Homo sapiens: one gene and its partners. The protein of the gene in region 7 interacts with the protein of the main gene of each other region in a biochemical or structural test. Each region holds a gene or a part of one and is shown on either strand. Other genes may lie near its edges.

Evidence for each region.
Region 1: the proteins of KCNJ18 (region 7) and FRMPD1 interact in a test that uses a peptide from one of them, tested with the Homo sapiens proteins (one large-scale study listed by IntAct).
Region 2: the proteins of KCNJ18 (region 7) and GRIP2 interact in a test that uses a peptide from one of them, tested with the Homo sapiens proteins (one large-scale study listed by IntAct).
Region 3: the proteins of KCNJ18 (region 7) and DLG1 interact in a test that uses a peptide from one of them, tested with the Homo sapiens proteins (2 studies listed by IntAct, with this or other methods).
Region 4: the proteins of KCNJ18 (region 7) and LNX2 interact in a test that uses a peptide from one of them, tested with the Homo sapiens proteins (one large-scale study listed by IntAct).
Region 5: the proteins of KCNJ18 (region 7) and SYNJ2BP interact in a test that uses a peptide from one of them, tested with the Homo sapiens proteins (one large-scale study listed by IntAct).
Region 6: the proteins of KCNJ18 (region 7) and FRMPD3 interact in a test that uses a peptide from one of them, tested with the Homo sapiens proteins (one large-scale study listed by IntAct).

The regions. Positions count from the first base shown.
Region 1 is NC_000009.12:37,706,454-37,709,953, forward strand, and holds part of FRMPD1 (FERM and PDZ domain-containing protein 1), read left to right. Parts: intron 1-962; coding exon 963-1,120; intron 1,121-1,945; coding exon 1,946-2,048; intron 2,049-3,500. UniProt on the Homo sapiens protein: Stabilizes membrane-bound GPSM1, and thereby promotes its interaction with GNAI1.
Region 2 is NC_000003.12:14,512,843-14,516,342, forward strand, and holds part of GRIP2 (glutamate receptor-interacting protein 2), read right to left. Parts: intron 1,637-3,500; coding exon 1,450-1,636; intron 969-1,449; coding exon 823-968; intron 16-822; coding exon 1-15.
Region 3 is NC_000003.12:197,068,113-197,071,612, reverse strand, and holds part of DLG1 (disks large homolog 1), read left to right. Parts: intron 1-2,352; coding exon 2,353-2,394; intron 2,395-3,075; coding exon of another isoform or gene 3,076-3,111; intron 3,112-3,500. UniProt on the Homo sapiens protein: Essential multidomain scaffolding protein required for normal development. Recruits channels, receptors and signaling molecules to discrete plasma membrane domains in polarized cells.
Region 4 is NC_000013.11:27,575,530-27,579,029, forward strand, and holds part of LNX2 (ligand of Numb protein X 2), read right to left. Parts: intron 1-3,500.
Region 5 is NC_000014.9:70,407,091-70,410,590, forward strand, and holds part of SYNJ2BP (synaptojanin-2-binding protein), read right to left. Parts: intron 1-3,500. UniProt on the Homo sapiens protein: Regulates endocytosis of activin type 2 receptor kinases through the Ral/RALBP1-dependent pathway and may be involved in suppression of activin-induced signal transduction.
Region 6 is NC_000023.11:107,596,152-107,599,651, reverse strand, and holds part of FRMPD3 (FERM and PDZ domain-containing protein 3), read right to left. Parts: intron 2,332-3,500; coding exon 1,510-2,331; intron 1-1,509.
Region 7 is NC_000017.11:21,691,282-21,695,322, forward strand, and holds the start of KCNJ18 (inward rectifier potassium channel 18), read left to right. Parts: upstream 1-1,241; 5' UTR 1,242-1,433; intron 1,434-4,041. UniProt on the Homo sapiens protein: Inward rectifier potassium channels are characterized by a greater tendency to allow potassium to flow into the cell rather than out of it.

The DNA of each region.
Region 1 (3,500 bases), on a different chromosome or scaffold from region 7:
TATTACTCCTTCACATTTCTGTTGTTCATAATGACAATAAACACCTCATCCCATCACTATTTGACCTTCCTCAGAAAGAACCACTGACTGTTAGAGGGAAAAATCATTTGCCACAGGTGAATGACAAATAACTTGTGACTCGCTTTGTGGTTTCTCTCTTTGAGAGATAGAAAATATTACTTTCCTGCTTTTAAGGAACATACATGTTTTAAAAGTTGATATAGAGGGAGTCCTTGCTATCTGAGATTTTATATTGGAAACCTTGCAGTTACAAAGCTTAAAGGGAAGCAAAATTCATCATAAAGAAACAAAGAAAAACATCACCAAAGACAAAATCTTGCTATAAAATTATCCGTCATCAAACATCTGAACCTGACAACTCCTTGTTTCTGCTCACCATCCATGTTTTTCCTCTCCTGTACCTCTGACTCCAGCAGTATGTCCTGCCTGGGATGCCCATCTGCCTGTTCTTCTGTCAGTCCGTCCATCCATCCATCCATCCATCCATCCATCCATCCATCCATTCATTCATTGATTCACTCAGCAGCAGTTATTGAATATCTTCTGTGTGCCAGGATCTGGGCTGTATAGGTATACCCTAGACATGTCTCAGAGTGCAGCTCAAATGCCACCTCTTCCAAGTACCAGATGCGTCCCTGATTCCCTATTCCCTGCCCTACAAAGGTGAAACTGCTCTCCCCCTTCTCTGTGTGTCCATAGCACTTCCTGGGCGCTTTCTAGATATTTAGCATTAGCTCATTAAGAATGCCTGGCAATACGACTTCTCTTTTAGAGGACAGTCCTAAGTTCTGCTAGTGGAGTTGGTGTCTTATTTGTCTCAAGAGGAGAATTGGTGTCTGCTCAGTTCTGCATCTTTCTCCATGATGCTTAGGGCTGACCCAGTTCGTGACCAACAACTAGAGTCTTCTCTTTCTCTTTTTTACATACTCCTTCTCTTCCAGGGCTAAAGTTGCTGCAGCTGATGGGCCCGCCAGGAACCCAACTCAGACCCTCATCCCTGTGCGACACACAGTAAAGATAGACAAAGACACCCTCCTCCAGGACTATGGATTTCACATTTCTGAGAGCCTTCCCCTTACAGTGGTGGCTGTCACAGCAGGTAGGGGATGACTGGGAAATGAGAAAGGAGTTTGGTTTCTTAAGGGGAAATAGCCCCAAATCTCCCCGATCTCTCTATCCTATAACAAAATGCAGAAAATCCTACCTGGGAAGTTAGAAAAGGCACACCTAATTCTGTCTTGGGCTTTGCACCTTACTTTGATGCTGGGAGGGAGGAAGCCTCAAGTGCACTTGCCGCTCCAAACCCCAGGCTCCCACTGGCCTTGGCTAGGGCGTTGCCCACCCTTGGCTCCCTGGCTGGTCTCAGGGGCAGTGAAAGTATTTGGCTAAGCTAGCCTTCCTCTTTGAACCCCACACGCTCCTAGCTGGGGATACTTTCTGGTCAGACAGTAATAGAAACCATTGATTTGTTTTCATTTGAACCTTGTGAAATACAGGCTGTACCAGGGTGGAGAGGAGCAGGTGGGGAAAGTCCAGTGCTTGTTTTCATAATTGAGGTGTGTTAATCTGGGATTCGTTAAAATGTATTGATTTCTATTTACTACACATACACACCAGAGTTTTTTAGAGATGAATGGAGTAGATTTACTGGCCAACTCTATTGATTTAGAAGGTTTCTGCTAGTTTTCTTTCTCAGGACAGTCTTCTAACATCCCTGGAAGTTGGTGATAGATGATAGGTACATTATCCATGGTTTATAAACAGGAAAATTAAGATCCACATGAGCCCAAGCCTGACTGAAGGCGGGGGAGTGAGCCAGTGCCCCTGGGAACTGGATCAGGGTGCCATTTAACTGTGCCGCTATTACACATAGAGTCTGGGTCCTCCCGGCATGAGCACCAATTACTTATTTTCTGTCCAACAGGAGGCTCTGCTCACGGCAAGCTTTTCCCTGGTGATCAGATCCTCCAAATGAACAATGAGCCTGCTGAAGACCTTTCCTGGGAACGAGCAGTCGATATTCTCAGGTACTAAATGGTCTTCCATCATCTACAGAATTGCACAGATTATCAAAGAACAAAGATGGGCAACAGGAATGGCATAACTGATCCCCTGATTTTAATAAGGCTAAGTCTCCTTTAAAGCAGCAAAAACAGCCTCGTTTTAGAGTTCCATCTATTAAAACGGCTTCTTGTTAGTGGCTGTTACAGTCCACTCTCTCTCACTTGCCTACAAAAGAGCTTGGGAGGCACAGAGTGCTGTATTTGTCAAAGCCCTGCTATGCCCAAGACACCGTGCTAAGCATGCAGGGAATGTAATGATCATAAATAACCCACAGGCCCTACCCTCTAAGGATTTATAGGCACGTTGTAACATATGCCAAAGATTGAACTAAATTGATGCCAAATCTGTTCTTCTTTATCCCTCTTGATATATCTTCTTAAATATAATTGCAGGTGCATCTTGGTTGGCATATATGTAGTTTCATTGATGTAGCACCTCCAAACCTTCTGTCTGGTGTCATTGTGACTTATGAAAATGCCTCGCTTTTTACCTAGACAATGATTTCCTGAGACCAGGGCTCAGTGGGTGCTCAGTTAAATGAGTGAATATGGTTAGCGCTGGGAATTGGCAACCCAGACTTTAAGACGGAGGAGTGCCATTGATAGGAGTGAAGAGGACAAGCAGACATTTTAAGGGCACATGAAGCTTTGGCTTTTAAATTTTTCACTCAACATTGTTCTAATGACTAGTATAAAGACAGACGAGAATCAGAGGTAGATGAAAGCTAACTTGAAGAGATATATATATATATATAAAATTCAGTTTGTGATTTTTCATGAATGGCTGATCTGGCTTTGGGGTGGTATTAATTGTTTTTTTTTCCCTTTTTTTTTGAGATGGGGACTTGCTGTGTTGCCTAGGCTGGTCTCAAACTCTTGGGCTCAAGTGGTCTTCCCATCCCAGCTACTCGGGTGGCTGAGGCAGGAGAATCGCTTGAACCCGGGAGGCAGAGGTTGCAATGGGCCACGATTGTACCACTGCACTCCAGCCTGGGTGACAGAACAAGACTCCATCTCAAAAAAAGAGAGAAAGAAAAAGAAAAGAAAAGCCAAGGAAATACACTGTAAATGCTGGAGAGTCCTCCAACTTGGGCAGAAGTTGTAGGCTGACAAAACAGAGAAGGGCCCAGAAATATTTCAGTTGTGTCTTTAATGCTGGGTAAAATTTGGTCCAAAAGATGGAGGTGAAGGGTGATTCAGGCAAAGAGGTAAACAGAAGCAACTGGGTGGGAAGTAGGGGCTGCTGAGCAGTTCAGTTTGCCTGCAGAAAAGTTCTAGGAAGTGAAGTCCAGATGATAGAAGGTCTTGAATGCCAGCACAGCATGTTTCAGTGTGATTCTCCCCCTGGAAGGGCGAGCAGTTGAAGGCTTCTGAGCAGGGATGCATGACTTGAGGTGTGCTGTGCATCTGTACCCT
Region 2 (3,500 bases), on a different chromosome or scaffold from region 7:
TTGGGATGACGGACTCTGGGGGTAGATGGACATAAACCGACGTGAGGACCCAGAGGAGGAGCCTCAGCGAACCCCAGCCCCATGCCCATTCTGGCTGTGCTGGGAGTGACCCCGAAAGTCACAGTTCTAATCTCATCCCCCTGCTTCCTCTCAACAGAGGAGGAAACTGAGGCAGAGTGAGCTGACAGATTTGCTCAAAACAACTGACCTGCTCTAGTCAGACCAGAGTCGGGGCTGGAACCAGGCCTCTTGGCTGTCGGCTAGTGTGGCGGGCGGGAAGGGAGCTCCCCACAGCCTAACAACCCAGTGTGAATCTAGCACATATTTCCTGAGCACCTACTATGTGCCAGGCCGTGGCTGGGTATTTTCATGTTTTCATTTCTCTTGGGCATATGCCTCACCTAACCCAAGTACCGCCCCTATAGTGAAAAGATCGTTATCAACTATTTACGGATGGGGAAACAGTGGAGGGAGTGTCCTGTCCAAAGCCACACTGTGTTGAGGTCACAGAAGCAGAATTCTGACCCAAACTGTTGTTCGAGGTTCTTTGCCTAACCCATGCTGAGAAGGAGCTTGGAGTATTTTCAGCTCCCCAACCCCATCCCCACTTGGTCCTGCCCCTCTGCAAAAGTCTCCTGGTGTGGAAACTTCTCCCTCCCGTGCCAAGGCTTCCCTTCCCACTATAAGCTGCAAAGCCCCTGGGAGAAGGGCACTGGGCACAGAGGGGGATGGGGTGGAGCGTTTGCACAGGCGAGGCAGGATAAAGAGAGGAGGGGTGCAGGGCCCTGAAATATGAGGAGGAAGCTTGGGCCACTCACTCACCCGCCACATCGAACTCCACCTCCAGCACGACCTTGTGGGCCAGTGCGGCGTCCCGCAGGAGCTGGTTGGCTTCCTCCATAGTCCCGTCCTCGGTGGCAATGCCATTGATGGACAGGACACGGTCCCCCACCTGCAGCAGCCCACACCTGAACCCAGGGGGCCCGGCAGAGAGAAGAGGCTCCGTGACAGGTCCATTGGGAGACAAGAACGCCATGCAGGGCAGGACTGAACCTGGGTCACACCTCCTGGTCTGGGGTGACTCTCAGCTCTGCCCTGGCCCACCTGTGTATCCTCAGGAATCTGGCTAAGGGCTGGACCTTGCTGGACCTCAGTTTCCCTGTCTGTCCAATGGGGATGATGGCATGGGCCTTACAAGTTGTGTATACAGAGGACTCTGCCTTCAGGCAGACAGGGGTTCAAGCCCTGGGATTCCATGGGTGAGCTGTGTAATCCTGGGCAAGTGAGTCAGCTTCTCTGAGCCTCGGTTTCCTCATCTGTAAAATGGGGCTGGTGCTGGGGCTGATGCAATGGTTAAGTGAGATGCGCTTGTGAAGCTAGGGCTTGGTGCTGTGACTCAGTTTCTCTCAGAGAGTGGCAGGCTCAGTAGGGAGGGGGCAGGAGGCTCACCTCTCAGCCGGACTGTCAGGCTCGATGAAGCACACGAGGGGTGGGGAGGACAGGGTCTCGGTGGCGAAGATGCCGCCCTGGAGCTGGAGGCCAAAGCCGCTGAGGGGGTCTCCACAGAGCACGACCTCCGTGGTCTCCGTGTGCACAATCTGCCCGCCCGGCCCCACCGTGCTGGAGGCTAGCGACACTGTAGGACAGGTGGGCCCAGCATTCAGGTGAGCCGCCCCACGGAGGTCTTCCTGCCAGGGCCTGCCCATCCCGGGGCCCTAGGCACTGGAGCCAGAGTGCAAGGAAGTGGGAGCCCTGACTCAGTCTGGGACCAGACAGATCACAGCTCACTCTGAGCCTTGGCTTCCTCATCTGAACAATGGGATCGTTGATTCCCACCTCGTGGGGTGTGGCAAGGACTAGGGAAGACAGTGGCTGGGATTGACTGTCATGCTGTAAAGCAGGTTCTGGGGGGCAGTGTCATTTTATTGTATTATTGTGCTGTGATCTACTGTAGTATCTACTATATTATGTCACTCTGCTTTTCGGTAAGAGGTTTATTGAGATATAATTTACATACCACAGTAGTCACCTATTTAATGTGTACAATTCAGTGGTTTTTAGTGTATTCACAATTATGCAAACATCACCACGATGCATTTGAGAACATTTCATCACCTCCAGAAGAAACCCTGTTCCCTTCAGCCATCCCCAAAGATCTTCCTATGTCCCTCAGCCCTAGGCAACCGCGAATCTACTTTCATCTCTGCATTTGCCTGTTCTGGGCACTTTATATAAACAGAATCATGCACCATGTGGCCTTTGTGACAGGCTGCTTTCACTTGGCATAATGTTTTCAAGTTCATCCACATTTTGCAGGTGTCAGAATTGCATTCCTTTTTGTGGCTGAATAATATTCCATTGTATGGATACACCACATTTTGTTTATCTATTCATCCATTGGTGGATACTGCGTTCCTTCCACTATTTGGCTACAGTGAATAATGCTACTATGAACATTTGTGTATAAGTTTTTAGGTGGAGATGACACATGTTTTCACTTCTCTTGGGCATATACCTAGGAGTGGAATTGCTGGGTGATATGGCAACTCTATGTTTAACTATTTGATACATAAGGTTATTTAATAAATATTGTTTTACATTCCATATATGAAATATATTTGCATCATTAATATGAATCCTGAAAGTCATTTATTATTTATCAAACAAAATTTATTTGGTATTTCATTACTAATTATATTATTGTGTCATATTATATTATTAAATTATATTGTATATTATACATTACAAAATGTGTAATATGTTATGTTTTTAGGTATATTGTGTTTTTATATGTATTTATTTATTTATTTTGAGACAAAGTCTCACTGTGTCGCCCAGGGTGGAGTGCAGAAGCGCCACCTCGGCTCACTGCAACCTCCGCCTCCCGGGTTCAAGCGATTTTCCCACCTCCAGAGTAGCTAGGATTACAGGCGTGTGCCACCATACAAGGCTAATTTGTTGTATTTTTGGTAGAGATGGAGTTTCGCCATGTTGGTCAGGCTGGTCTCGAACTCCTGGCCTCAAGTGATCTGCCCACCTCGGCCTCCCAAAGTGTGGGGATTACAGGCGTGAGCCACCATGCCTGGCCTATTTGTTTCTTTTCACTACTATGTCCCCATAGTATGTACATTCAGTACTATGCCCCATAATTAATTAATTATAATTAATTAATAAATTACTATCAACAGCAATAATGATAGTACTTTCTTAGTTACACATCCCAGGAAGGAGACAGGCAGAGGAGTCGCAAGAGCCTCCAGTCTCCACATCCCCCACCTACGAACAGCATTTCTGCATCTTTTCATCTACATATTCCCCACTTTGGTGGCCAGGAAAGGTGGTTAGTAGAGATATATTTTCTCTCTCATCTGACTGAAATCTGTTTCCCATTTCCCTTTGGCTGCCAGGGAGTGTAGAACCATATTTAGCTTTTTTCAGACACCAGGTGACCTGTACTCCTCTCTTCTTTCACCTGGTTCTATCTCAAATGGCCCAGTTTG
Region 3 (3,500 bases), on a different chromosome or scaffold from region 7:
GAAGAAAAACATTTTATTTTTCTAATAACATTCCAAACAATTATGATGACGCTATTCTAAGGACCATACTTTGAGTAGTGAGGCTTTATTGTAGAAGAGCTAAGTGAAATGATATTTGAAAGAACCTGCAGAATTTGATTGTGGCGTAGCTTTTGGCAGTCTTAGAGGGTTTGAGGTGAGTAGGAGAAATCTCAAAAAAAAAAAAAAAAGACAGTGAAGAGATTTTGGTAACTTAAACTTTTTATTATATAAATATCAGATATATTCAATAGTAGAAAAGTAGTAAAAATAAACCCTGCAGGTATTTGTTTATCCAGCTTTCATAATTGTCAACTGAACATTTGCCAATTCTGTTTCTTCTGTACTCCCACTTACACTCCCCTCCCTTCACCCCATTGCAATAACTAATTTTTCTTTAGTTTACAAACTAGAGATTGCAGAGGGTAATACCAATACTAATGTAAACAGAATAACTCTTTTTTTAATGTGGCGTGTTTCTGGGTATGAAATTTAAGGAAATAGGACAGAAAGTTAAAAGGTATATATAAATGAAGACATTCATAATTGTTGATACTTGTGAAAAACAGTTTAAAGCAAATAAAAATATCTAATAAATAGCGAGGTAAATAATGTATCAATCTAATAGAATATTATACACCAATTTTAAATTATTGCTGTCAAGCCCATGTGGTGACATGGAAAGAAATATTTTAATATGAGCTTTTAAAAAACCTACCATTTGGCCAGGTGCGGTGGCTCACACCTGTAATCCCAGCACTTTGGGAGGCCAAGGCAGACAGATCACGTGAGCTCAGAGGTTCAATATCAGCCTGGCCAACATGGTGAAACCAGTCTCTACTAAAAATAGAAAAATTAGTTGGGCATGGTGCTATATACCTGCAGTGCCAGGTAGTCAGGTGTCTGAGACACAAGAATAGAATCGCTTAAACCTAGGAGGCAGAGGTTGCAGTGAGCTGAGATCGTGCCACTGCACTCCAGCCTGGGCAACAAAGGGAGACTATCTCAAAAAAAAAAAAAAAAAAAAAATGAAATTTCCAGCTGGGTGTGGTGATTCACACCTGTAATCCCAGCACTTTGGGAAGCTGAGATGGGAGGATCCCTTGAGGCCAGGAGTTTGAGACCAGTGTGGGCAACATAGTTGAGACTTGTCTCTTTTATTAAAAAAAAAAAACAAAATTTTAGCAGGGCATGGTGGTACATACCTGTAGTCCCAGCCACTCTGGGCTAAGATGGGAGGATCACAGAAGCCCAGGAGAGGAGGGCGAGGCTGCAGTGAGCTATAGTCATACCACCTCACTCCCACCTGAGCAACAGAGTGAGGCCCTGTCCCTTTAATTAAAAAAAAAAAAAAAAGTTAAAATAAAAATTCAGATTTCCCTGTCTCATTGAAAGTTTTATTTTTATTTTTTAAAAATAAAAGTATTAGTCTTTGTTTAATTGAAGGGAGATATTTATTGAGAGAAAACTTGAGATGACATTTACATGGATGAGAAGAGTGCCTATGGTTTTACCAAACAATAAAGTCGTGAAATGGAGTCACTTTTAAGGAGGGCCAGGCAGTTTCTGGCTGGGTGTGTTTGTTCTCATTGTCTTTTTTATGTTTTGCAAAAGCCAGCCAGTGCCAGTCTTATCAAAGCAGAGTTTCTAAGAAATATTAGTTGGTTTTAAAATGCAATTGCCACCATCGGTGCCTTCCCTTCCAGCTGAGACATCTGAATTTATGACTTCTAATATTAGTTGGTTTTAAAATGCAATTGCCACCATCAGTGCCTTCCCTTCCAGCTGAGACATCTGAATTTATGACCTTTACAATCCTTTATCTATATGATCTCAGAAACATGGATTTTCATCTTCAGAAACAGGAGCAAAGCTGGATTGAAAATAAGATCATCTATTTATTTTTAATTACAAAGACATCCCGTCATTAAAATGGGCATCTATTTGTTTAAATATAGTTTGTCCCCTTTGCCAGTTAACGCTGTTTCAAAAACTGAAATAGTGCCAACAGTATTTTCTCCTTTGAGTTTTATGTCTACATTTGGACTAATTCAGGGTCACTTAGCCCTTTTTGTCATATTCTACTTGCTATTTATAATAGATTTGTTCATAAACTGTGTTGTACAAAAATAAGGCATTGTCCTTAATTACAGGAGTTTTCCTTTGCTAATATATATTTATTATTTGAAAAACTTAAACGTTTCAAAGAAAAAGAAAATGCTTTTAAAAAATTATTTTGTTATATATGGCTTATATCTCAACATTTCATTTTGATTATTTGCTTTTTAAACTCATGACACTGTTTTATTTTTTTTCATTGTCCTGCAATTTCAGAGCATGTAACTTCTAATGCCAGCGATAGTGAAAGTAGTTACCGTAAGTGTTTTAAGTTACTTGTTCTTTTGTAATCTCGAGTAATACATCCTCTGCAGGGGTGGAGGGATTCTGAGTGATATGTTATAAAAACCTGAAGTTATATGATCGTTATTTTAAAATCAGGGAGAGACAAGTAAAATTCTGTACTTGAAAAATAAAATCATACTATATATGTAGAGGTTAATTTATAAAATTTTAATAAAATAAAAATATTATTTGTGTACATGATACATATGTATATGTATATGTATTTTTTGTAAGAAGTAAATATCTAGTTAAATGGGGGAAAACTTGTATTTTGACCTTCTGTTTAGTAATTGGTTTTAACATGAGCACTAAAATAATATTTTTCAGTAATGCTAAATTATCATTAGCTTTATTTCCATTTTTATTCTTTGTCACCAATACTGATCTGGGTCATGTCATTGTTTATCACCAGCACTTGGTGAACGGAAGAAATAAGGAAACATTTTCAATGATCACCTGAAAAATAATACTAATTTTTCTTTTGCTGTTTTATATTACATTCTTGGTTTTATTAAGTGAACTGCACAAGCATGTGATGTTTTAAAACAGACTTGGGCATGGGAGAAGGGGAGGGTACATAATATCAGTTGTAGCACCTTAAAAATTAAAATTACTTTTCTAACTTTCTTTTTTTACTGCTGTCTAATATGAAAGTAATCTTGATTACAGATGAGTATGGCTGCTCAAAAGGTCCATCCTGTTAATATCAGTCCCTAATACTTTTTCATGTTGACAGTATATACTTTTAACCGTCATTCATTTGGTTGATTATTTTTCTACACAATAGTTACTTAATGATTTTTTTTTTGGTGTGGAAATGATTTCCTGTATTTCAGCATTTTATTAATTATAACCAGAACCCACTATAGGGTAGTTGAGTGGCTTTCTAGGCTAAAAAGAGGTAATGAAAGTATATACTGTCTCTCACCATTTGCATGAATTATTAAGGTGTGAAATATTCAAATTGCATGTGTTTGCTAGTATGTAAGCCATGTTTCACATCCAGTACTTTAAAAAACAGCTTATAAAATATTGGTCTTATGTACTTTGATAATAAAATTGAAAACAAAGAAATACTT
Region 4 (3,500 bases), on a different chromosome or scaffold from region 7:
TGCCTTACTGCTTGAGTTGTGACATCTCATCTCCTGCCCTCAGACTGGGATCACTGGCTCTCCTAGTTCTCAGACCTTCTGACTGAGAAGGTCTGAATTATGCTACTGACTTCCCTGGGTTGCCAGCGTGCAGAGAGCAGAACGTGTAATTTTTCAGACTCCTTAATCATGTCAGCCAACTCCTCATATATTGGTTCTATTTCCTTACAGATCCCTGACTAATTCATTAGTGAAAATGAAGCTGGTATTCATTTAAAATAGACTGCTATAAACTAGGATGTTAATTGTAAGCCCCAGGGTAACCACTAAGAAAATAATTTTAATTAAGAGAAATGACACGGGAATTAAAATAGCATATTAAAAATATTTAACACAAATGGAAGAAATGGAGGAAAAAAGAAATAAGACATATAGAAACAAACAGCAAAATGGCAAATGTAAAGCCTACCTTATCAGTAATTACATTAAATTACATGAATGAAACATCCCAATAAAAAGTCAGTGACTGGCAGAATGGGCTACAAGAAACATAATCCAACTGTCTACAACAGACACACTTCAGATTCAAAGACATAAATAAAGCAAAAGACAGAAAAACATAACAAGATATGACAATTATAAACAGAAATTGTACCAAACAATGGCCCCAAAATACGTAAGTAAAAAATGACAAAGAGAGAAATAGACAAATCAACAATAAAGCTTTTGATACTCGACTTTCAATACTAACAGAACAACTAGACATGGAACCAGAAAATAGACCCTTTAACACTATAGACCAATTAGACCCAATAGACATATGGAGCACTCCATCCATTAACAGCAGAATTTACATTATTCCCAAGTACACACAGGACATTTTCCAAGACAGGCCATGTGCTAGGCCATTTTAAAAAAGGCCTCAAGGCTGGGCATGGTGGCTCACGCCTGTAATCCTAGCTCTTCGGGAGACCTAGGTGGAGGATCACCTGAGCTCAGGAGTTTGAGACAAGCCTGGTGCAATATGGCAAGACCCCGTCTCTACTAAAAGCACAAAAAAAAAAAAAATTAGTTGGGCATGGTGGAGTGCGCCTGTAGTCCCAGCTACTCGGATGCTGAGGCACAAGAGTCACTTGAACCCAGCAGGTGGAGGCTGCAGTGAGCCAAGATTGCACTGCTTCACTCTAGCCTGGGTGACAGAGCGAGATGCTATCTCCAGAAAAAAAAAAAGAAAAGAAAGGCCTCAATAAAATTTAAAGGATTGAACAATACACATTATGATTTCTCATTGCAATTAATTCCAAATGGATCAAAAACTGAATTATAAGAGAGAAAACTAGAAAACTCTTAGAAGAAAACGTACATGTAAATTTTTGTGACCTTGAATTGGGCAATGTTTTCTTAGATATGACACCAAAAGCATAAGCAAACAACAATGAACTTCATAAAAATTAGATATTTGTTCTTTAAAGGATGTAGGAAAGTGAAAAGACAACTGACAGAATGGGAGAAAATATATGCAAATCATATATCTGGTAAGGGTCTAGTATCCAGAATACATAGAAAATTCTTACAACTTAGCAAAAAGACAAATAATCCAATATAAAAATGAACTAATGATGTTGAGCATGTCATGTGCTTACTGGCCACTTGAGTATCTTTGGAGAACTATCTATTCAAATCCTTTGCCCATTTAAAATTGGATTTATCTTTTCATTTCTAAGAGTTCTTTATATATTCTGGATACTAGAATACACATGATTTGCAAATACATATATCTGCTTTTTCACACCATACATGAAAAAACAATACTGATAAGAATGTGCTAAACACAAACTTCCCTCCAAGTTAAAGTGTGAATTTAAAAGTGCAATCATGCCTCAGCCTATCCTGATCCCTTTTTTTTCTATTTAGTTTTTCCTGGACCATCATCTAAAGCAGGGTTGTCCAATCTTTTGGCTTCCCTGGGCCACACGGGAAGAAGAATAATTGTCTTGGTCCACACATAAAATACACTAACATCAATGATAGCTGATAAGCTTAAAAAAAAAATAATCCCAAAAGCCTTCCTGGGCTGCATGTGGCACAGGCTGAACAAACTTGAACTTAAGGTTTCATAACCATCTCATGAACAAGAAAAGTTCTCAGCAAGGAAAGAGGCTTCTTTAAAGGTTTTCTATTGTAAACTTTTTATAATGGCATTAAACTGTAATTTTTAAGAGGAAAAGTAATTCTGAACCTTGCCATAAACTAGGGCACAAACACACAATTTAAAAACAACAACAACAACTAGCACTTACAATTACCAAAGGCTTAAATGTTAAATCGTTAAGGGTGGGTTGGAGATGAGTGGTAGAGCGTAGGAGGAATGCTATATAGCTGATGTTGCTTGGCAGAATTTCAAAGAAACAATCAAAATGTTACATATTTAGTACAACATGTAGAATATTTTTCAAAGGCTTTATTTCTCTGTTCAAAGATAGAGACTGTCCATGTCTCTTAAAATTCTTCATTTCACTAATACATAATCAGTTAAAAATAGCAGTTTTATTTAAACATGTTCATCTTTCATAAATATTTTATCTGTAGGAGAAAAATGTTTGCTCTTCTCAAATCAAAACACATTTGTTAAGGGCAGGATTTCATTCAAATAGGAAGGTGATCTTAAATGTGAAATTATCAAATTTATGCAAACTACTGCTAATGCTCTATTTCTACCAATAATTAAGAGATTCCTGTAAACCCTAAAAGCTCAAGAGCAAAGGCACATGACAGCCATGCAACTTTTATACAATGACTCTTTGTTGCTGATGCTAAAATCTTATGAATTTCAATGAAACTTACAGACTTACCAATTTCTAACAAACAAGTGAGATTTGTATACCGAGAAGCCGCAAACAGTCGTAGTAATCATATTCTGCGCCGCATAACATCATTCTTCTTGCTAGTTTATGTTGGTTTTAGAACATGGCTGCAAATTTTTTTGACTTCCCATCACAAGGTGAAACCTATGTCCCCTTTTCCTTGGATATGGGTGGGTTTATGACTGCTTCCAACAGAGAAGGGATGCCAGGCAACTTCAAGGCTAGATCATATGAGGCCATGCAGCCTACTAGACACTGAACCACTTATGTAAGAACTTTAAATACCCTGAGGCTGTCATGCTGGGAAGGCTACCTGTAGCCTCTCCAGCTGACAAGTCCCACGCACCTAGTCATTCCCATCAAGGTGTCAGAAATGTGAATGAAGAAACCATCTTGGAAGTAGACTCTCCAGTTACAACTGTTGCAGTCCCTGGCTTTCAGCTCCTTCCCAGCTGTGGCACACATAAAGATAGCAGAGACAAGCCATCCCTGTTTCATCCTGTCTGCATCCTGACTCACAGAATCAACAAATGCTTGTTGTTTTATGTCAGTGTGTCTGGGGTGGTTAGTTTCTCAGCAATGAATAACTGAAACACAGATCAACAATTTAATTGGACTAACATGAGATGACTGTCAACTTTGGGCAAATAAACTGAA
Region 5 (3,500 bases), on a different chromosome or scaffold from region 7:
TTATTAGGTTGGTGCAAAAGTAATTGCAGTTTTTGCTATAAAAAATGGCAAAAACCGGCCAGGTGCGGTGGCTCACACCTGTACTCCTAGCACTTTGGGAGGCCGAGGCAGGTGGATCATGAAGTCAGAAGATCACAACCATCCTGACTAACATGGTGAAACCATGTCTCTACTAAAAATACAAAAAATTAGCCAGGCATAGTGGCAGGCGCCTGTAGTCCCAGCTACTTGGGAGGCTGAGGCAGGAGAATGGCGTGATCTCCTGGGAGGCGGAGCTTGCAGTGAGCCGAGATTGTGCCACTGCACTCCAGCCTGGGCAACAGAGCGAGACTCCGTCTCAAAAAAAAAAAAAAAAATGGCAAAAACCACAATTACTTCTGCACCAACTTAGTCAATAATAAAAGGCTAAAGTTTCTCAAAGCACCAATTTTGTGTTAATTAAGCAAAAAAAAAATTTGTTATAGTATCCTCCTTACAGTAGACTTTTTCTACTATTTCCTATGCAAATATGATAAAATGATTTTTAAATAAATTCTAAGTATATCCCCAAGATAAAATCAAAGTAAAAAAAAAAACATAGAAGATGAAGTTTAAACTCAAAATCACCATAATCTACCTTTCTAGCCATCTTTGGACATTCTCTACTTTGCATTATACAGTAAACAAAATTTAATATTTGCTATCGCTTTTCACCCTATCATCCCCGCCCACAGCTACTGCTTATCTCCGTGACTTTGGATGTCTTCTTCCCTTTGCCTGAAAACATGAAATTACTTGTTTAATTGTCTCATTACCCTATTGCAATATTCGTTCCTAGAAGACAATGTAATTAGCTTATATTCATTTTTGTACCTCCTGTGCCAATATAGTACCTAGTACATACACAAAGCCCAACTGGTGTCAATTGACTATTATTGGAATTGAAAATTACACCTAGGTCAGGAATTTCTAACATTTCCAGTTCTAGGGAAATCTCACAAGGTTAAAAATGTTTCTGGGAGCTTCTAACAGGTTTTTTTTTTTTTTGGAGGAGGGGGAAGGACTATTGCAGTAATAGGGTTTTTTTATAAACTAAGGCATAAAAGGAGGGAAAAAGAGAAACAGAAGCCCCATATCCCTGAAATTACTGACACAGCTTACCCTACCCTTCCTAGATGACTCAATTCTTGCCCCATAAAGTCTACTCCCCACATAGCAGTATCCTTAAAGCACTTCAATGAATTAAATGAGTTGTTTTGTGGTAAAGTGCTTAAGACAGTACAGAATCGTCACTACAAATTATTTATAAAACAAAAATCGGACAGGCGTGGTGGCTTATACCTGTAATCCCAACACTTTGGGAGGCCGAGATGGGTGGATCACCTGAGATCAGGAGTTAGAAACCAGCCTGGCCAACATGGTGAAACCCCATCTCTACTAAAAATACAGAAAAATTAGCCAGGTGTGGTAGCGGGCGCCTGTAATCCCAGCTACTTGGGAGGCTGAGGCGGGAGAATCGCTTGAACCCGGGAGGCAGAGGTTGCAGTGTGCTGAGACTGCGCCACTGCACTCCAGCCTGGGCAACAAGAACAAAACTCCGTCTCAAAAAAAAAAAAAATCATTGAATCCTCACAACTCTATAAGTAGATTCTAATAATACTCTCATATTATAGCTGAGGAAACTGGGGCAGATAGAAGTGAGGTGACTTGCACAAGGTCACACAGTGAGTGAGTGATAGAGTAAGGATTTGAACTCAAGCATTCTGGCACTTTTTCTTTTTTGAGACTGAGTCTCGCTGTATCGCCCAGGCTGGAATGCAGTGGTACGATCTCAGGTCACTGCAACCTTCACCTCCTAGGTTCAAGCAATTCTCCTGCCTCAGCCTCCCAAGTAGCTAGGACTACAACAACCTCGAACTCCTGGGCTCAAGCAATTCTTCCACTTCAGCCTCCCAAGTAGCTAGGACTACAAGCATGCACCACCAAACACAGCTAATGTTTTGTTTTGTTTTGCTTTGTTTTGTTGGCAGAGATGGGAGTCTTGCTATGTTGCCCAGGCTGGTCTTGAACTTCTGGCCTCAAGCAGTCCTCCTCCTTGATCTCCCAAAGTGCTCGGATTACAGGCAAGAGCCACAATGCCTGGCTTGAACTGCAAAATTCTTAAAAATGGGGATCATTTCTTATTCTTTATTCTAGTGTCCATGATTCCTAATCATAGTGTAGGCACATAATAAATGCTAAATAAATTTTAAAAAATAGTTTTACTTTACTTTTCAGTCTTCTGAAACCAGCAGTTCTGACCCTATCATCTAAGTATAGTTTGGCTATTTTTCCCTCAATAAATAATTGTGTACTTATCACATGTAATCATTGACCACTTTTCTGGCTAGTCACATGGCTTCGCAAAATGTTTCTGCAGTTGAACATCTATCAGCTTGCCTTTCTATTTCCCCAAAGTAATTCCTAGATATTTTACTGTACAGTTTTTCTTTAGTATTGTTTTGAAAAGATCTTAATACTGATCCTTGAAGCAATCTTTAGAGAACTGTTCCATTTACCTGACTCTCTCCAAGAGGTGTTCCATCTACTCCTTCTCCTTGTTTCTGATATCTTAGCCAGTTTCCTATCCATCATAATACAATGTGTCCATCCTCATTCTCTCTTTCTCAAATTGTATTTAGTGAAGAACCATGTTTACCACTTTTTGAAAGCTGAAACAGATCATGTTACTGCTTCTCTTTATTTAAAACATCCCATTATGGCAGGCACAGTGGCTCATGCCTGGAATCGCAGCACTGTGGGAGGCTGAGGTGGAGGATCACTTGAGCCCAGGAGTCCAAGGCATGACTGGGCAACATAGTGAGATCTCGTCTCTACAAATAATTAAAAAAAAAAAAAATTAGTCAAGTGTGGTGGTGCATGTCTGTAGTCCCAGCTACTCAGGAAGCTGAGGCAGGAGGACCACCTGAGCCCAAGAGGTCGAGGCTGCAGTGAACTGTCATAGTGCCACTGTACTCCAGACTGGGGGACAGAGCAAGACCCTGTCTCAAAAATAAATAAGTACATTGGGTGTGGTGGCTCACGCCTGTAATCCCAGCACTTTAGGAGGCCGAGGTGGGTGAATAACTTGAGCTCAGGAGTTGGAGACCAGCCTGGGCAACATGGTGAAACCCCGTCTCTATGAAAAATATGGCTAATAAAAACATTAATCAGGTGTGGTGACACACACCTGTAGTCCCAGCTACTTGAGGGGCTGAGACAAGAGGATCACTTGTACTCAGGAGGTCAAGGCTGCAGTGAGCCAAGATCGTGCCACTGCACTCCAGCCTCGGTGACAAAGTAAGACCCTATGTCATAAATAAATAAATATAAAAACATTCCATTATATTATTATGATATCTATCAGTTTGCTCAGTCATTTAATGAACACTTACTGACCACTGTGTGTCATGCACTAGACAAAGCATTAAAAAAACATTAAAGACACATGCATGCATGTGTTCACTGCAGCACTATCCATA
Region 6 (3,500 bases), on a different chromosome or scaffold from region 7:
TAGATTCAACAGCTAGGAAATTTTTGTTAATTGTCCTAAAGAGGGGCTGGCAAAGAGAGGTCTCTCTCTATCCCTCCTCATCTGGCCAGGCCCGCCTACAGTCATTGCAGCTGAGGCCATTTAGCTGAGCTTGTCCTCTCTCCAGCAGCCACGTGGGACTCAAGCCTGGGAGCAACTAGCACTCTCTCCAGACTCTAAGCAAAGAGAAATGCCAGCCCTGGGGGCCAAATACATGGGGGTTGTCCAATGTCAAGGGTGTCCTCACACATGGAAAAGGCAGGCTCTCTCTGACCCCAATCCCTCGTGGTCCCTATTCCTCCCTATTCCTTTTCTGTTGCTGTGTCATTTACCTCTTCTCTTTCTTTTTTCTTCTTTTTTTTTTTTAGAGTCTCACTCTGTCACCCAGGCTGGAGTGCAGTGGTGCAGTATCGGCTCACTGCGACCTCTGCCTCTCAGGTTCAAGCGATTCTCCTGCCTCAGCCTCCTGAGTAGCTGAGACTACAGGTGTGCACCAGCCCACCCAGTTAATTTTTGTATTTTTAGTAGAGACAGGTTTTCACCATGTTGGCCAGGCTGATCTCGAACTCCTGACCTCAAGTAATCTGCCCACCTCGGCCTCCAAAAGTGCTGGGATTACAGGTGTGAGCCACCACGCCCAGCTCTCTTCTCTTTTTTTAAGGTGTATGTATATGGAGGGACATATGTGTGACTATGGGTATGTGTCTGACATGTGTTTGTCTACAAGATGGACATACATGTGTTTATAACAGGGAACAGCATGCATGTTGTACGGTTTTCCTGTGAACTAATACTTAGTTACAATAGCTACCACTTACTGAGGCCTTACTGTGTGCTAGGCAGTGCTTACATGCTTTGCATGAATGATCTCATTCAATCCTTGTGACAACCCCATGTGATAGAACTACTTTTATAAAACCCATTTAAGATGATGGAATGAGGTTCAGAGAGAGTAAGTGCCTTGCCAAAGGTTACACTGACAATGATTGAAGAAACCAGGACTTCGGTGCATCTGATTCAGAGCCCATGTTCTTAGGCAGGATAAAGACCTCAGCCATGAGCAGTGATGGCCCTTGGCTCCCCTGGTCCCAGGTCACTAGGTAGTGAGTTGGTCGTTTTCCTTTTCTTTCAATCATGTGCATGCTGGATGTTCTGTTCTTCACCTGTCTTCTACATCTCTCACAGTTTTTCTCTGATCCTCTATCCTGGCCTGCATCCATAGCTGTCATGACCCCAATCCCTGGGATCTATCTGTAAGGCATTTCCAAAGAGATGCAATGACGAGAGCCAGAACTCTAGCTAGAGCTGAGCAGCTGCTCCCTGCTGTAACATCATTGCTCCTCTGACCCTATCTAAAGAACCTTTGGTACATCCACTGCCCTGACATACCTCAGTGACTCTGACACCTATTTGGGAAGACACAATGTTACCTACTGGCCCTTGTTGGACAAGAGAAGGGGGTGGAAAGAGGGAGAAGGAATCGGTCATTACCTGCAGTCTGTGGGGGTGGTGGGTGTGGTCCATCCTCGGATGCAGCCAGGGCTTCTAGAGCCTGCAGAGTGGACACCAGGGCATCATCTAGCTCCTGGGCATGATCTCGAACTGTCCGGGTCTGCACACTGTCAATCAATGTCACTGGAATCTCATCGTACAGAAGCCCACGCAGGTGGCGTCCTTGTTCCTGGCTCTGGACAGCCCGGCGCTTGGGGTCATCCTCATCAGAGCTGTTGTCTCGGAAACCAGGGGGTGGGGCAGCAATGGCTGGCAACAGAGAAGTTGTCTCATCTTCCTCCTCCTCCTCCTCCTCACTCCCAGGTGGTGGGAGGGACATCAAATCTACTATATTGTCACGAGAGGAGCCAGGCTTCCCACCTTTGCGAGGGCCCAGCTGCTCCTGAAGTTTGGCTTTGCAAGAGTCACAGTAGAAATTCAGGGCTTCAGCCCCAAGGGAATTGTCCAAGGTGTAGGACCGGGCCCTGCTGGCACAAGGCTCGTGGTCTAGGCTAGCTGCATCAAAGTCATCAGGGACTACCTCATAACCTTGGCCAGAGCTTTTGGATGTGGGGTCAGACTTGGTTCGGGGCCTGGTCTCCTCAAAGAAGATTAGGTTCTCGTTGACATCTGTCCGGCTTTCCTGCTCCTTCCTTTGTTCCCGCATATGGAGGTAGCAGAAGCTGACAAGCTCAGAGTCGGCAGGTGGGGGCGTGCAGCGGCTCGATTTCCTGGGGCTGGTGCCCACGCTGCCCACATAACTACTCTCCTTTTTCCCCAGGTGGCCCCCAGTGACAGGGCGGTGGGCGCTGTGCATGTAATCTAAACCCAGAAAGAGAATCAACAGATGAGCCCTGGTGCCAAGGATTGTGAATGAGCTCCCTTGTTGTCTCTGGCCCATGTCTCTGTAGCACAATCAAGTGGCAGGTCCCAAGACAAAGCATTACCTGGCTGCCAAAGATTAGAGGTAGGGAAGTTGATGAGCTATGTTACTGCTGACCCTGAAAGTAGAGTGAATAGAGTCTAATAACCTGAGCTGCTAATAGCCCCATCACCTCTGAAATGGGAAAAGGCATGGGGTATGGTAGGGGTCGGGGTGAACACCCTGGTTTAGGGCCTGGTATCTGGGCACAGCTGGACTCTTACATGGATACCCTCTATCTGAAAGTCAGCTGTAAACGTATGTCCCACTTGGAACTGTTCCTACCCCTGTCCCCACCCCTTTTCAGAGCTTTTCCACCAGTGCTCTGTTGTTCTTGTTATCTTGAATCTCTTCTAGCAGAAGGAAATAAATCTGACAAGTTACTAATGCTTTAGTCAGAACCTGTTAAACAGGCTACATATAATGCCGAAGAGTTTGCATTTCAAAGAGGCCTGTTGATGGAGGGATCCTAAAAGAATAAGGCTCTATATTAGAATTCCGGGGTCTGAATGTGTAAAGTATATGGGAGATATGCTGGGATGTGCATATGTGGGAGGAGGGCAGGGGAAGCATTCTTATAATTCTTCAAATTTTATTCTTTTCTGCATTCATGCAGGGCCAGCCCTACCTGCTACACATACATATGGCAAATGCTCTCGTCAACCGCTCTTAATGATGGTAGGTGTGTGCATCTGAGAATTATCTATAGCAAATGCTTTATCTGTGAATACCTTCTCTCACTGTTTTTGGAGCTCTTCCCCATTTTATCTGTGAGAATATACTCGGACAGCAGACAGACAGATAACAAACAAGCACTAACTTAGGCTAAGGTCCTAATATACATGATCCTACTTATTCTTCATAACAACCCAATGAGGTAGTTATTATCATTATTCACATTTTAAGGATAAAGAAACTGACTCACCTAAGGTTACATAGACCAAGTGGTAGACTGGATTTCCGCCTAGGTCTGAAAGACTTCAAAACCCATGTTTTTAGCCATTACCCTTATAACTCATCATGGTGGTCAAGATGCTGGAAAACAAGCCTTCAAAATGCCACTCAAACT
Region 7 (4,041 bases):
GAATTCATGCCTTGTTGCCCCAGAACTCTTATAGTTTCAAGCTCTCTTATGGCCCTTGGGCTCCCCATTGCCTTTGGGATCAAGTCTAGGCTCATTAATATGACATCTGAGGCCCCCTGGGGTGATGCCTCAGCCTCTGTGCCTGCACACGCTGAGCTTCCCTGATATGATGGTGTCAAGGCTGTGCCCATCTCGTCACACCTTCCCCACAAACCCCGAATAGTTTAGATCCTGGAATGGAGGGCTGGCAGGGCTTCTGTGGAGTAGCTGGGCCAGCCCCCTGGTTTGCACACAGTCAGGGTGGGTCTTGCCCAAGGCCCAGTGCCTGGAGAGTGAAGCTGGAATCTGCACCAAGACTGCAGGACTCTGGTGCTCTTAGCTGTGTCACTGTGCTATGGTTAGTCTCAGGCGGGGTTGTCACCCCTGCTGCTCGCTGCTGCCTCCCCACTGGCAGATACTCCTCTAGGAAGCACCCCTCCTGCCACTGGGTTAGACACCTCCCCTGGGCTCCAGAGGGCCCAGCGACTTATGACTGCTGACTTCTCACCGTCTGCCCTGTGAGGCAGGGTGCCCCATGAAGGCAGGCGCCCAATGCTTCCTCTTCAAGTCCTCGGTGCCCAGTGAGGACTTGAAGAGGGAGACCCAGAGAGGGACAGAGCCCTGCTCCAGGTCACACAGCAAGTTGGGGCAGAGCCAGGAGTCCTAGAAGGGCCCCAAGACCCTCCAGGTCTCCCCTGTTCGTGGGACTTAATGGAGCCCAGGGATGGGGCAGTGTCTGTGATGGCCACCCCAGCAGAGGGCACTACTGCAGGGCCTCTGTTCTCTGCTTCTCCCAGGGGCCTGGGGCCAAGGACACCCTCTGTCCCTCCTGCCCCCACCCTCTGTGAAGAAGGATGTTCTCAAGATAAAAATACCGTCAGAAACATTCCCTGGTGTTTGGTGTGACTGTCGTCCACCCTGTGGGGCCAGAATCTTCTGACCTGGCCTCACCTCAGGGCTTAAGGGTGGACATTTGCCTTTTCTAGCCGCTTGGTGCAGCCTCTTTCTGGGGTCCATATGTCCAGCCCCCATCTTTACGCCACAGAATGTGAGGGGTCAGTGTCACTCAAGGTTCCTGCAGCTTCCACTTTCTGAGCATCCTCTGTGGGCTGGGCGCATCCCGAGCATGGAACAGCGAGGCAGATCCTGCCCTTGTGCGTTTTGTGGCTCCTTGCGGGCCAGGGGGGCTTCTGAGGACATCCAGCAGGCCACAGGGAGGCTTGGGCACAGTCAGCTTTCCGTCCTGTTGGGAAGCCTGTTTCTGCTTTCAGTGCCTACGTGGTGTCAGGAACGCCGGTCACAGTGAACGCCTGCAGGACCCACACTGCTGCATCGTCTCTGTGGGACAGATACTGAAGCCAGGGCTTGGCTTACCCTCGTGACAGTCTCCCGAGGTGTGTGGGGTCTCCTCATTTTGCAGATGGGGAGTTTCAGGCCCCAGTCAGCTGGGGGGCTGCCAGGCCTCTCCAGGGAGGGTGACGGCTGCCACCTCCCAGAGACCCGCTGGGGCGAGGCCCAGTGCCCGGACTGCAGCTTCGTCACCACCTTCAATTTCATGGCACACCCTCTGAGAGGCCTGGCAGGCGACACCAGCCTCATTTTTCAGGGGAAGCTGAGCCTCAGGAAGGGGAAGTGCCTTGCCCTGTTCCGTGGGGGATTTCAGCCCCATCCTCAGCCCAGGCCCTGCCCTCCCCTGCGGGACGCTGTGGGCCAGCCCGGCCTGTTGGCCCTCAGTCGTGGTCATGGGGAAGCACTGCCCCTGCAGCCCACCTCCCCATCCAGGATTGTGACCATAACCCCGGGAAGCATTTGTGGGACTTGGCGGGGTGAGCTCACATGGCGGCTGCTGTGGCCCCTGCAGGTGGCGGGAGCTCTGGCCAGGGCATCCGGAAGGCTGGCTCCTGTTTGCAGGGTGCTGCCCTGCCCTGTGACTTCAGGAAATTCGCTTCTCTGCTCTACGTCTCAGTACCCCTGTGTAGAGTAGAGCTAATTTTGCCTTCCTCCTAGATAAAAACAAATCCAGCTGGATTTGTGGTCTGGGGAATGCCCCTTTCAGGTAGTAGGGAGTGAGGGACGAGGTTGGGAGAGCCTGGTGCAAGCCAGGTGACCAGCAGGATGTGGATAGATGCTGCTGCCCACACTTCTGGCCCCCACCCCTGCTTGGCTCCCCATGGCCCTGTGGCAATATCCGACCTTCGCTGCTCAGAGTTCCAGCTCCAGGTGACTGTGCAGGTGACTTAGCTTCTCTCAGCCTCAGTTTTCCTATCTGTCCAGAGGGGAGAATTGTCCCTCCTCCAAGGCAGGGCTGTGAGCATCGGGATGACTGCAGCCAGCTGCCAAGCATGCAGGGCCAAGCACAGTGTTGGCTCACTCGGGGAAGGGGGTGGACCCAAGTCCCTGCCGTGGAGGTCCCCAGCTGTTTGATGTTGGCTTGTGACAGAACCTCTCTGAAACTCTGCAGCTCATCCACCTGTCCATCCATCCACCCGTCCATCCATCCACCCATCCATCTCTGAACCTCTGTGTCCCCATCAGTTTTGAGGATGGAATGGCTGAGAGAGGCAAAGTGTAGGCCTGTGGCTTCTGCTCCCAGAATGATGAGGGATGGGGAAGAAGGGGCTGGGGATTGGGGGACTTGGAGGGTGAAGAGGGACTGAAGGGCCACTAGAGACCAGGCAGGCCATCCCATTTCAGAACAAGCTGAGAGAGGGGAAGTGACTCACTCAAGGTCACACAGCTTATGAGGGGCAGAGCTGGGATTTGAATCTAGGTCTGTGTGCCTGTAAACCACTGTCACCTGTCCCAGGAGGCTGATGATGTGGGGGTGACTCACCAACAGTTGCCTTAATTCCAGCCAGAAAAACCAGTGTGACAAACCAGCCTCGGCTGTAACCTTGGAAAGGGCAGGCCCCATGAACTCCATGGCTGGGAGGTGCGGAGGTGAGAAGCATGTCAGGTGGCTCACCGTGGAGATCCTCAGAGCCCCTTCCCACCAACCTCTTCTCTGATTCTCACGGCACACTGGATAGGAAGGCAGGGGGATCCCTTTGACAGGTGGGGAAATTGCATCTTTGGGATTGCAGGGACCATGTAGGATGTATGTGTACCCAAGGCAAATCTCTGGCAAATTACTGATGTGTGCCCATCCATGTAGTTAGCCATGTGCCCACCTGCTCATCCATCTAGTCATCTATCCTACTTGCCCAAACACCCTATCCATCCATCTACCCACTCATCACCCACCCTCACACTCATCCACCCATCCATCTATCCATCTACCCACCCATCCATCCACCCATCCACCCATCCATCTATCCATCTACCCACCCATCCACCCACCCATCCATTCACCCATCTGTCCATCCATCCACCCTTCCATCCCTCTATCCATTCATTTCTTTACCCACCCATACACTCATCCACCTGTCCATCTATCCACCCATCCACTCATCCACTCATTCACTCCACCCATCCATCACCCAACATTCCATCCATCCATCCATCCATGCACCCGTCACCCATTCATCCATTAATCTGTTCATCCACCCACTCAACCATATACCCACCCATCCACCCAGCCATCCCTCTATCCATTCACTTCTTCACTCACCCATCCACTCATTCACTCACCCATCCATCCACCCAATCATCTGCCCATCCATCCATCCCATTCGTCTATCCATCCATCCACCCACCCATTACCCATCCATCCACCCATCCATCCATCCATCCACCCATTCACCCATCTATCCCTCCATTCATTCATCTACCCATCCGCTCAGTCACCCACCCATCTACCCTTCTGTTCATCCATCCATCCAATCATCTACTTTCACACTTATCCATCCATCTATCCAACCATCCATCCATCCATCCATTCATCCATCCATCCATCCATCCATCTTTCCATCCTATTATCCATTCATCCACTCATCCATTCACCCATTCATCCACTCATCCATCCTTCCTCCATACAGCCATCCACCCTCACACCCAACCACT